Linked DNA regions of Homo sapiens: region 1 is linked to region 2. Evidence: fine-mapped expression QTL. A gene starts in region 2. The other region holds a variant in brackets. All regions are shown on one strand. Distances are from middle to middle.

Region 1 (5,375 bases), 310 kb after region 2:
TGAGAATGTGTGTGCTTATATGTGTGCGTGTGTATACACACACACACACACACACACACATACACACACAAATCACTGCTTCCCAAACATTCACCCATGGATTCTGAATATACAGATTTAGGACTCTCTCTCTCAAGAGCTGCTTCTCCCCTCTTCCTTGTCCCCAATCTTACAAATACAGTCGCCTTAAATGTAGATTGAGCGTTGTCGGCTTGCATTCCCTGAAACGATTCCATTTTAGTCTGAACAGATGTGATCATTTTCCCCGTGCTTTTTCTCAATTATTAAGAATTCATTGTGATTACTTTCTTACAATTCAGTTTCTAGCACTGTGGAAAAGAGTCCCAAGAAAATTCCAATAAACGCTTCAGGAACCTGCCAGCCCACAGATGTCCTATCCTGAGACCCCATGTGTTGACCATGACATTTGGAGGCTGAAAGTCAGCACACATTGAGAATTCAATGCCGATTCCCTGGTCCTGTTGGCCACTTTTATGGAAATTTGAGTTGAGCCCCATGTTTTCTAGATTCTGGTACTGTATGGATTCTATCAATTTGACCAGTGGCTTAGTAGGTTTTTATAAGTGGTGGTCCACATCCAACAAGCAGTAATACCATATCTTTAAGCTTGTCTCCAAGGCTAACACCTTCCATTTACAATTCAATGAAGTTCTGTCCAAAGAGGGAGGCTCAGCCTATTTGATCCTGCTACTATTTTCAAAGTGGTCAAACCAGTGAATAAGAAGTATGGGTTTAAGCTCTGGGATCAAATGGTGTCCTCTTCACTGATTGTTAGCTAAAATTAATAGATCTCTGGTAGAAAGAGGTCGCACGGGATGAACAGGCTTGTTAATGGAATAGAAGATGGCTGGTTCACCTGGGACAAGTGCTTTGGCTCCAGCTCTCTTCTGCTATTGGCTGGGCCCAGGCAGAAACAGCAACGCTGGCCCTCTAAACGCAGAGGCACAGCTCCCAGACACTCCATCTGCAATCCCTGTTGCCTGGTGAATGCCTTGCTTCCCTAAGCCTTTCAGGCCAAGGGTGTTCTTGGTGGGACAAAGGCCCTGAGGACCACCTCCCCAGCTCTACCCACTGGCCATCACCAAGTCCTCCAGCAGTGGGAAGAATCTGACCCATTCCACTTGAGCACATGGCTCTTATTTCCTTTGATGGAGGGATTAGAGGAGAGAAGACACAAAATAAATGAGAAGAGTATGGGGTGCATGCCCCTGGTAGGAAATGGGGCTGGGAATGAGGGTGATAAGAACGAGATGGAATCTACTATCAGTACCCCTGGGAAGCTGTCCGTGCCCTCTCTTTTCTCTGGCTCATCCCTACTGCATTCTTCCCAGCAGCTGTTTCGACTCTTCTCCTCCTTCCTCAGGCCTCCACATCCACCCCCATCATTCACAGAAGATGACTTCACCTCCAGCTCACTGAGAGGACTGAGCCATTGGTCTATACTGACTCCAAGTGGCCCACAAGTCTGGCTATGCCATTGGAAAGACCTGGATTTCAATCCACCTTCTGGCATTTTTACAGTGGTTTATGAGCAACTTAATTAACCTCTCTTGGGCTCAGTTTTCTCACATATAAAATGGGGCTGTTGTGAGGATTAAACAATGCAGAGAACTTGCATGTAAACAAAAAGTAAGGTTAACCATTCATTGTTACTACTAATGATGTTATAATACTACTACTATAGGCACCACCACCTGCAGCATTCACTCCCTCCAAGTGCAGCCTCGCTTCCTTCCAGAGTCCTACCTCTTGTCTAAGGATGGCCTCTCCACTGGAGCAGAAGCCATCTGTTCCTACCTTATTCCAAATGGTTATCTCTGGCAACTTCACACCCCCTCTTCTTGCCACTGTCTTCCTCTCGGTGTTCAAATATGTTCAACTTCCACATTTAACTTCCCAAATGCTTCCCTGCCCCCTCTTTTTTAAAAAAATTATTCCCTCAAACCACAGTCTCATCTCTTTCCTTCTTTTCACTAACAGATTTATCCAAAGAATCATCTGTACTTATTGACACCACTTCCTTACCTCCCACTCCCTCTTCAACCCACTGAATTTGCCTCTGCCCCACTGTTCTGGTGCAATGGAACTTTCAAAGGTCTTTCCCAT[T/C]GTCCTCTTCCAACCTACTCACTCCTGCAGGAGCGTCTGGCTCTGTTGATCCTGGCAGTCATCCCCAAACCTTCTTCTCCACAGGTGTCCATGAGCCTGTTTCTCCCTGAATCTTCTTTTCTTTTGCACAAGTCTCAGTATCATCTCAGTGTACCCTCACTGTCATCTTTTTGACCCTCTCCCTGGGTGGTCTCACACCCTCCCTCTTCAGCCATGATTGTCCCCAGGATTCTGCCATCTGCCAAATCCACATCTCCAGCTCTGGCCTCTTCTGTGCTCCAGATTTTCATTGCCAGCTCCTTGCCCTCTTACACAAGAATGTCCTGCTCAGCCTGTCCAGTCCCCATATCTGATACTAAACTGTCAGTCATCTAGTGGGTCTGCTTATTTCTTTCTCCATCACTCGTCTGGTAATCAATCGGTCTTGTTGAATCTGCCTTCAAATTGGTACTTTGATCTAGTACTTTGCCTTCCCATGAGTTCTCTGCCTTTGGAAGTCCCTACCTCCTGCTTGGATAGTTGATATGGCCTCTGAATGGCTCTCTGGTCCAGCCTCCTTTTGCCCCTGGTTTCTGTGTCCCATGGACAGCAGGGTGATCTAAACTGAGAGTGATCATGTAATTCTTCATCTAAAGGAAAGTGCTTTTATGAGTGAATGGGGGTTCCATTGATAATTATGCCAGTGGATTATCCTGGGCAGACAGAGATGTGTGTTCACTGTGTTAAAATGATGTTCTGATTACGTAATTTCCTGGTCTGAGAATCTTATGCGCCCCTCCCCCATGATAACATGTAATCTTGCTCATATTTGTAATCTCAGTGATTTGGGAGGCTGAGGCAGGAGGATCGTTTGAGGCCAGGAGTTTGAGACCAGCCTGGGCAATATAGTGAGACCTCTGTCTCTATAAAAATAAAAAAGCTTATCCCGGCATGTTGGTACATACCTATACTCCTAGATACTCAGAAGGCTGAGGCAGGAGGATGGCTTGAGCCCAGGAGGTGGAGGCTGCAGTGAGCTATGGTTGCACCACTCCTGCCTGGGCGACAGAACGAGGCTCTGAGTCAAAACAAAACAAAACAAAAAAGAAACCATGCAATCTCAGCACTGCATCTGTGGCTCTGTCATGATCTGGCCTCCTTCAGTTCTTTAAGCCTCACTCATTCTGGGCTCTGTCTGCACCTGACTGTCCTTAATGCTTCATCATTTCCTGAAATGCTTGTCCCCTCCTGTCTTCAGCCTGTGCTCTCATGGTTCCCTCCCGGAAGCCCTGGCTGTTTCTCCATCCTTGTCCTTCAAGGCTCAGCTCAAATGCCACCTCCTCCCTGAAGCCTTTACTAATACTGGCTGTTTGGATGAATTTCTTCCTCTTTGTTCTGGCAGCACCTTTCACAATGTGCCCAATATTCTGAATTACCTGTGTACACAAATGTTTTCCCTGAAGACTCAGCACTTGGGGGACAGGGCTGGGTAACATCCTTCTCTGCAACTCTGAGAGCTATTAGCATGGTTTCTTGCTTCAAGAATGAAGTGCGGATGGAATGTTCTAAGCACCTTCCCTGTGACAGGTGATCACATAGCCCCTGTTCCAGCTTCACAGCCCTGCATGATGGAGATCATATATATGCCTCCCACTCCCACCCTGTTCCTTTCTCTTTTTTATTTTTTATTTTTTGGGACAGAGTCTCACTCTGTCGCCTAGGCTGGAGTGCATTGGTGTGATCTCGGCTCACTGCAACCTCTGCCTCCCAGGTTCAAGCGATTCTCCTGCCTCAGCCTCCTGAGTAGCTGGGATTACAGACATCTGCCACAAAACCCGGCTAATTTGTTTATTTTTAGTAGAGACGGAGTTTCACCATGTCAGTCAGGCTGGTCTCGAACTCCTGACCTCAGGTAATCTGCCCACCTCAGCCTCCCAAAGTGCTGGGATTACAGGCGTGAGCCACTGCGCCTGGCCATCCTTTCTTCCTTCAAATAGAAGGAAGATAAGCCTGGAGAGATGAAGTAATCCACATAGTTGGGGAGTGACAGAAATGCTTTTCAAACTGAGTCTTGTCTTCTACAGAGAAAATGCCTACCATGTGGGAGCATGAATGACTTCTAATCCTATGGCCTTCCTGTCCACCATGTTGCCCCTAATGATTGTTTATTGAACAAGATTTCATAGAAAGATGGTATGGACAGTGAGATTCACAATGGGCTCTCAATGTACCCTTCCTCCAGCAAGACAATCACCAAACATTTCTATGCAGAGGAAATTAGAGTAAAATATCCATTGAAGTCAATATTGAGCAGAAAAGTAAGTCACAGAGCAACCGCCTAACAGAGATTGTAGGTAGATGTGAGCGTTGGGTACAAATGTTTTCTGCCTTGGTTATGGTGTGAGAGAGCTTTCCTTTTTTTTTTTTTTTTTTTTGAGACGGAGTCTCGCTCTTTCGCCCAGGCCCGAGTACAGTGGCGCTATCTTGGCTCACTGCAAGGTCTGCCTCCCAGGTTCACGCCATTCTCCTGCCTCAGTCTCCCGAGTAGCTGGGACTACAGGCGCCCGCCACCACGCCTGGCTAATTTTTTGTATTTTTAGTAGAGATGGGGTTTCACCATGTTAGCCAGGATGGTCTTGATCTCCTGAACTCGTGACCCGCCCACCTCAGCCTCCCAAAGTGCTGGGATTACAGGCGTGAGCCACTGCGCCCGGCCGAGAGATTTCCTTTTAAGCAAAATGACCTATTGGAGCTTTTAATTTTTAAAATGCAAAGTCTCCTTGTTCTCTTCTCTTTCCTCATCACTGTTTAACAGGATGGCTGGGTCTCTAAGGAAAGTTGAATAATGCCAGCGCCTGCCTCTTGGGTGCAATAGAAAGTATGATAGTAAGATCAAACCAGTCAGGGGAATCAAACCCAAAAGCCAGAAGAGGTCATTGGGAGGACCCCTGGATGAGTGACTTGTCTTGCCACGTGGGCCATTTTCACTTGGTGGTTCTCAACTTTGTATTTGAGGTGTTTGTAGGGAAAAGTGACAAGGAAGTAGACGCCTTTGGAATGCCACTGTCATCCTATAACTCTCTCACTCACCACCTGATATGTGGGCTGCTCTGAGATGTCATTTCTGCCTCCTGGACAAGGCCTCAATGTCTAAAATGGTTTAAACAAGGGGACTCTACTGGAAACATACAAAAAGAATTGGAGCAGGAAAGGGAAGGTGGAGAAGGTAGAAAGGCTCCCTACCTATACTGGGTAATGACCTGTGCATA
Region 2 (5,375 bases):
GAAATCATTACACATAAGCAGATGGCCTGGTTCAATTAATTATTATTAGCTTTTGCTATAGTGGGTATTTTGGATGATGTTTTACTCAAGAAACAAACATTTTCAAATTTGGCCCATTCTGAGAAGTGAAGCCATGTATGTCTTCCCACACCTCTCCTCTGTCATTAAACCTCCAGTCATTCTTCTTTCAAGTTTGTGACCTGTTGAACAGAACCCCCCATCTACACTGCTCAGAAGTTGGTGTAGCTTCTTGCATCAAATTTTCTTTGCTTCCAAGCAAAGTGGACACAGAGTTATGTGCTTCAAATTCTCCTCCCCAGGAGGTTCTCCCTCTCACCTGCTATCCTCACTGAACTATAACATCACAGTCACCTATTTAGAAGGTAGGGCCGGGTGCAGTGGCTCACGCCTATGATCCCAGCACTTAGGGAGGCCGAAGTGGGCGGATCATGAGGCCAGAAGATAAAGACCATCCTGGCTAACACAGTGAAACCCCGTCTCAACTAAAAATACCAAAAATTAGCTGGGCGTGGTGGCACCCACCTGCATTCCCAACTACTCGGGAGGCTGAGGCAGGAGAACTGCTGGAACCCGGGAGGCAGGGGTTGCAGGGAGCTGAGATCGCACCACTGAACTCCAGCCTGGGCGACAGAACGAGACTTCGTCTCAAAAAAAAAAAAAAAAAGGTAGGCAAGCATATGGTGTGAAGCTATCTGTAAATGAGGATCAGTGGTTTTTCCTCTCTTAGTCACTAGCTCTTGGGAAACCCCTTTGAGGCCGGTGTTAGATTGATGAAAGGGTCAGGGGTAGGCACACAGGGAATGATCTACCTATGCATATAATGCACTTGTGCCTTCAGTACCTGGTTAGGAGCTAGTCCCACATAAACCATTTCCAGTTGGTAATGGGATTTTATGAGTGTGTCAGATGGCCCAGTACATGACGGACAGCTTGGGTTGCAAATGACATGTAATACATTAGGGATAATCACTTGGCGTCCAGTGGTCAGTCCAGCTCAGAAGTCACTCCCAGCTTCTCCTGCTAGCACAGTCAATCCAGAATCTCTGCAATGTATATCAACAACATCAGACCAGTGTAAAATGATACCTTTCCACCCATTTATTAAGCACCCTTAGTTAGGAAAATCCCAAAATCATGTTGGTTTCTAATCTTGATCCTCGCTGGTTTGAGCTTGCCATTGTCCTTCTTTCTGAAGTGCTGGGATCTAACTGTCCATTCTGGAGACAGTCGAGGGTAATGCATGAGAACTGGCTTGCTCTTGCAGTGAGACTGCAAAGGATGCAAAGAAATGGCAGTGTCGTTACGAAGTGTGTCAGAAGACTGGAGAAGAGGGTTTCCGCTGACGAAGGAGGCTCTTTGAGGACTGGGTGATTCAGAGAACTTCAGGTTTTCCAAATCCTCTCATTTGTCTCCATTTGGATTCTCTGGGTCTTATCCCTTCCTGATCAATGCTTCAGCAAGGCCATGATTTTACCAGTGTAGAAATGTGGCCAGTCCTGTGGATCAAATTTTACCTTTGGTTTTCCCTTTTTGTTGTTGTTTTTTCTTTTTGAGACAGAGGCTCGCTCTGTCACCCAGGCTGGAGTGCAGTGGCACGATCTCAGCTCACTGCAACCTCCGCCTCCCGGGTCAAGCAATTCTCATGCCTCAGCCTCCCGAGTAGCTGGGACTACAGGCATGCGCCACCATGCCCGGCTAATTTTTGTATTTTTGTAGAGACGGGCTTTCACCATGTTGGCCAGGCTGGTCTCAAACTCCTGACCTCAGGTGATCTGCCTGCCTCTGCCTACCAAAGTGCCAGAATTACAGGCACGAGCCACGGTGACTGGCCGTTCTATTTTCTCAGTTGTATGGACTCAAGAGGGAAGAGGGTATTTCAGAACTGTCATAGGAAGCCCTTGGTTTGGTTTAAGTCTCTTCCTTCAGCTGGTAACTTCGGGACTTGAGCTTGCCAGTGTCTTTTTTTAAGCTGTGTGGCATGGCTTAACAGGACTGCCTGGCCGGCGCATCTGTAATCCCAGCACGTTGGGAGGCCGAGGCGGGCGGATCACGATGTCAGTGGATCGAGACCATCCTGGCCAACATGGTGAAACCCCGTCTCTACTAAAAATACAAAAATTAGCCGGCGTGGTGGCGTGCATCTGTAATCCCAGCTACTCGGGAGGCTGAGGCAGGAGAATCACTTTAACCCGGGAGGTGGAGGTTGCAGTGAGCCGAGATCACGCCACTGTACTCCAGCCTGGCGACAGAGTGAGACTCTGTCACAAAAAAAACAGGACTGCCTATTGGGCCTCATATGCTTGACTGTTTGATGGCAGAAACAACTCATTGGCTACAGGCTTTGCTTTGAATGGACCCTTCTTCCAGGTGACCGGTATGATGAGAAGTAGAGAGGTAGGGGCAGGTGTCAGCGTCTGGATCTTCTCTGGGATCCCAACAGAAGACATTTTCGTCCTGCTGTGCTGAAGACGGGACCGGAAGGCCATTGCTCAGGTATTCACTCTACCAGACGGGGCTTTACGCTCCCACCACTTCCTCGAATCCCCCGTGAGGTAGATATTATTATCCTGACTTTACCTGTGAGGACAGGAACGCAGTGGCGGGGTGGGTTCTCACTGTGCGTGGAGGCAGCAGGACGCAGAAATCGACCTCCCCCACGCGCCTCGCCAGCAGCTTTCAGTTTCGTGGCCCAACGCCCTGCACTGCACGCCTCTCCTCTGGGATAATTGATAGTTGAATCTGTGTAAGCTGGAAGCAAATGAGAGCCCAGCGGCTGTTCTTTCCCATTCCTTTTAGATTGAGGCAAAGGGACAAATCTGCGATGTGAATAATACAGCTCCAGGAATTTTTATCAGCGCGCCCCACGCCCGGCCCTGCCTGAGGGTCTTTCTAAGCCACAGGCGTCCCTTCCCAGGTCTTGTCTCTTCCCTTCCGCGAATGCCCTCGGCTCACCCAGCAGGCAGGTGTGATCCGGCTCCGCGCTGGGGCCAGGTGAGGCCGGGCTGCCTGCCCCGGTGCACGTTCCCAGGGCGCGGCGCCCAGTCGGCGGGGCCTGCGGGCTGGGCCTCCCCGGGGCGCCGGGCGTGGCGCCGGGGGCAGGTCCCCGGGCTGCCCTGCAGGGCGGCCGGCCGGCGGCCAGCGGCTGTTTACCTGTGCAGGGCGAGGCGAGACTCGTGGCGGTGCCGGGGCTTTGCACGCAAGGGGCGATGCGCCCCGGAGGGGGAGGGACGCAAGGGGCGACTACTGTTACCTCGCTTGGAGATACCAAGGCCGGTCGGACCCCCCGCTGGCCGAATGTGGGTAGGCTGCCCCCAGTTTGTCCCTTCCCAGGGTGGATCCAGATTTGGGGGCCGGAAGTGTATACAACGTGGGGAGCGCCCTTTGGGAAAAATAATACAGAAGTCCCAGTACAAGCTTAGGTGCAGGGCTTTTTTGGAAGGGGGCCTGTGAGTGAGGGTCCCCGAAGCCCAGGCTTCCTTGGCTTTTAGGTAACCTCACCTCTGAATCAGGGCAGGGAAGCCTGAGGTGCTCGGGGGTTTAGAGGCTTTCCAGACACTGCAGGAACCCTATTTAGTTAATTCACTTTTCCTTCATCTTCCACACACCCCAGCCCAGCACCTGGGAGAAGGGATGGCGCTGTGTTCAGAGGCAGGAGGAACCCAGCCCACAATTGTGCTTCTCTCTCCTGCCCTGGGAAGAACTAAACCCATCTTCCTCCTCCTTCCAGTAGAATGCGGGAGGCTGGGCCTGGCCATCCAGGGCTGAGCAAAACAGTAACCCTGAACCTACCTCTGGATTCTCTCCCGCTCTCTGACCTTCTAGCTCTCAACCCAGTGAAAGTGTCTGGACTCTGCCAGTGGCTTAATAGGGAAAGCGTCCTGGGGAGCCACCGTCTGTCCCCAGGGACTGTCACTGACCCCTCAGAGGTCCCCGATGGGGCTTCTGATGGAGCTGCTCGGACCCCAGACCTTCAAGAATCCTCAGGGTACGAGGCTACTGCCCTCTGCCCCAAGACAGGGAAGATGTGTGTGGGTGGAAGAGCTGGAAGTGTCAGAGGCATGTGAACCAGAACAACTCCATCTTAAATAGGAGCTGGGTAAAATGAGGCTGAAACTTACTGGACTGCCTATCCAGGCAGTTAAGGCATTCTAAGTCACAGGATGAGATAGGAGGTCAGCACAAAAATATGGGTCATAAAGACCTTGCTGATAAAACAGGTTGCAGTAAAGGAGCTGGCCAAAACCCACCAAAACTAAAATGGTCACGAGAGTGACCTCTGGTCATCCTCACTGCTACACTCCCACCAGCACCATGACAGTTTACAAATGCCACTGCAATGTCAGGAAGTTACCCTATATGGTCTAGAAAGGAGAGGCATGAATAATCCACCCCTTGTTTAGCATATCTTCAAGAAATAACCATAAAAATAGGCAACCAGCAGCCCTTGGGGCTGCTCTGTCTACAGAGTAGCCATTCTTTTATTCCTTTACTTTCTTAATAACCTTGCTTTCACTTTGCACTTTGGACTCACCTTGAATTCTTGCGGGAGATCCAAGAACCCTCTCTTGGGGACTGGATCAGGACCCTTTTCCTGTAACAGAAGAGCAACTGCTTTGTGTGGCCCAAGGAAAGATGTGTGATTCTTTGTAGAGGGTGAACCTATGGACCTGTATCCCAGCATCCCCACAGCCCGTGATCCTCCCCCAGATTAAAAGATCAGCTTGGAAATCATGCGGGGTCTTTTCTGATATAGTCTCCATTCTCTGGTGCACTATGAGCCACAATGATACATTTCTCATTGGCCTCCCTCCTCCTGGCAGGGAGCGAGCAGATCCAGCCTGTTTGGACGTGGTGAGGACCCAGCCGTGGGGTTTAAGGCCAAGTTAGCCTCTCCCTTCACTGATTACAAGAGCCATTGTTACAGGTGAGTCTTTGTCCTTAAAGCTCCCAAGATGGTGGCGAGCCGCTCCCATGATGGGGCAGGCAGCTCCCGAGATGGCGGCAAGCCTTTTGTTCTCCGACCTGAGGTTCTTGGCGTCACCGATTCCAAGGAATGGAACGTTGGGCCATGCGGTGAGTGTTATAGCTCTATTAGAAGCCGTGGGTCATGGAAGAGAACCATGGAACCCAGTGACTAGTGTTCAGCTCGATTAGGACGAACCCGGACACTTAGCCACGCAGGAACAGTGGTAAGCCTCTAGCCCGAACGGGAGTGGCAATGGGCGCCTCACTGGATCAGGAGCACAGCGGACACCCTGCTGGATCTGGAGGGGTGGAAGTCAGCAGTGGGTCTACGACAGTGGCAAACAGCAGTGGTGGACGGCGAGTGAAAGCTCAACTCGAGCCGTAACAAA

Alleles and levels. Positions count from the first base shown, and alleles are read on the strand shown. Sizes are in standard deviations (SD) of each study's normalised expression.
In carriers of allele C in region 1, the expression in testis of the gene that starts at base 3,220 in region 2 tends to be lower than with T alone (small effect, 0.32 SD a copy in GTEx).

Evidence for each region. PIP is the estimated chance that this variant, and not a neighbour inherited with it, causes the effect. A credible set is the group of variants that fine-mapping cannot tell apart.
Region 1: its variant is the best candidate, but not a certain one, in a credible set for the expression of LINC00511 in testis (GTEx, PIP 0.75).

The regions. Positions count from the first base shown.
Region 1 is chr17:72,330,467-72,335,841 of GRCh38, reverse strand. No RefSeq gene overlaps it. Among named protein-coding and RNA genes, the nearest start is that of LINC02003, 9.7 kb to the left of the region's middle. The variant T/C (reference allele first, on the strand shown) is at 2,128.
Region 2 is chr17:72,638,317-72,643,691 of GRCh38, reverse strand. It overlaps LINC00511 (long intergenic non-protein coding RNA 511), which reads left to right and starts at 3,220. Exons shown (of 5, transcript NR_033876.1): 1 at 3,220-3,321; 2 at 4,842-4,945. LOC105371887 (a long non-coding RNA gene) reads right to left here and starts at 3,017. Exons shown (of 4, transcript XR_934961.3): 1 at 2,974-3,017; 2 at 2,599-2,769; 3 at 863-1,064.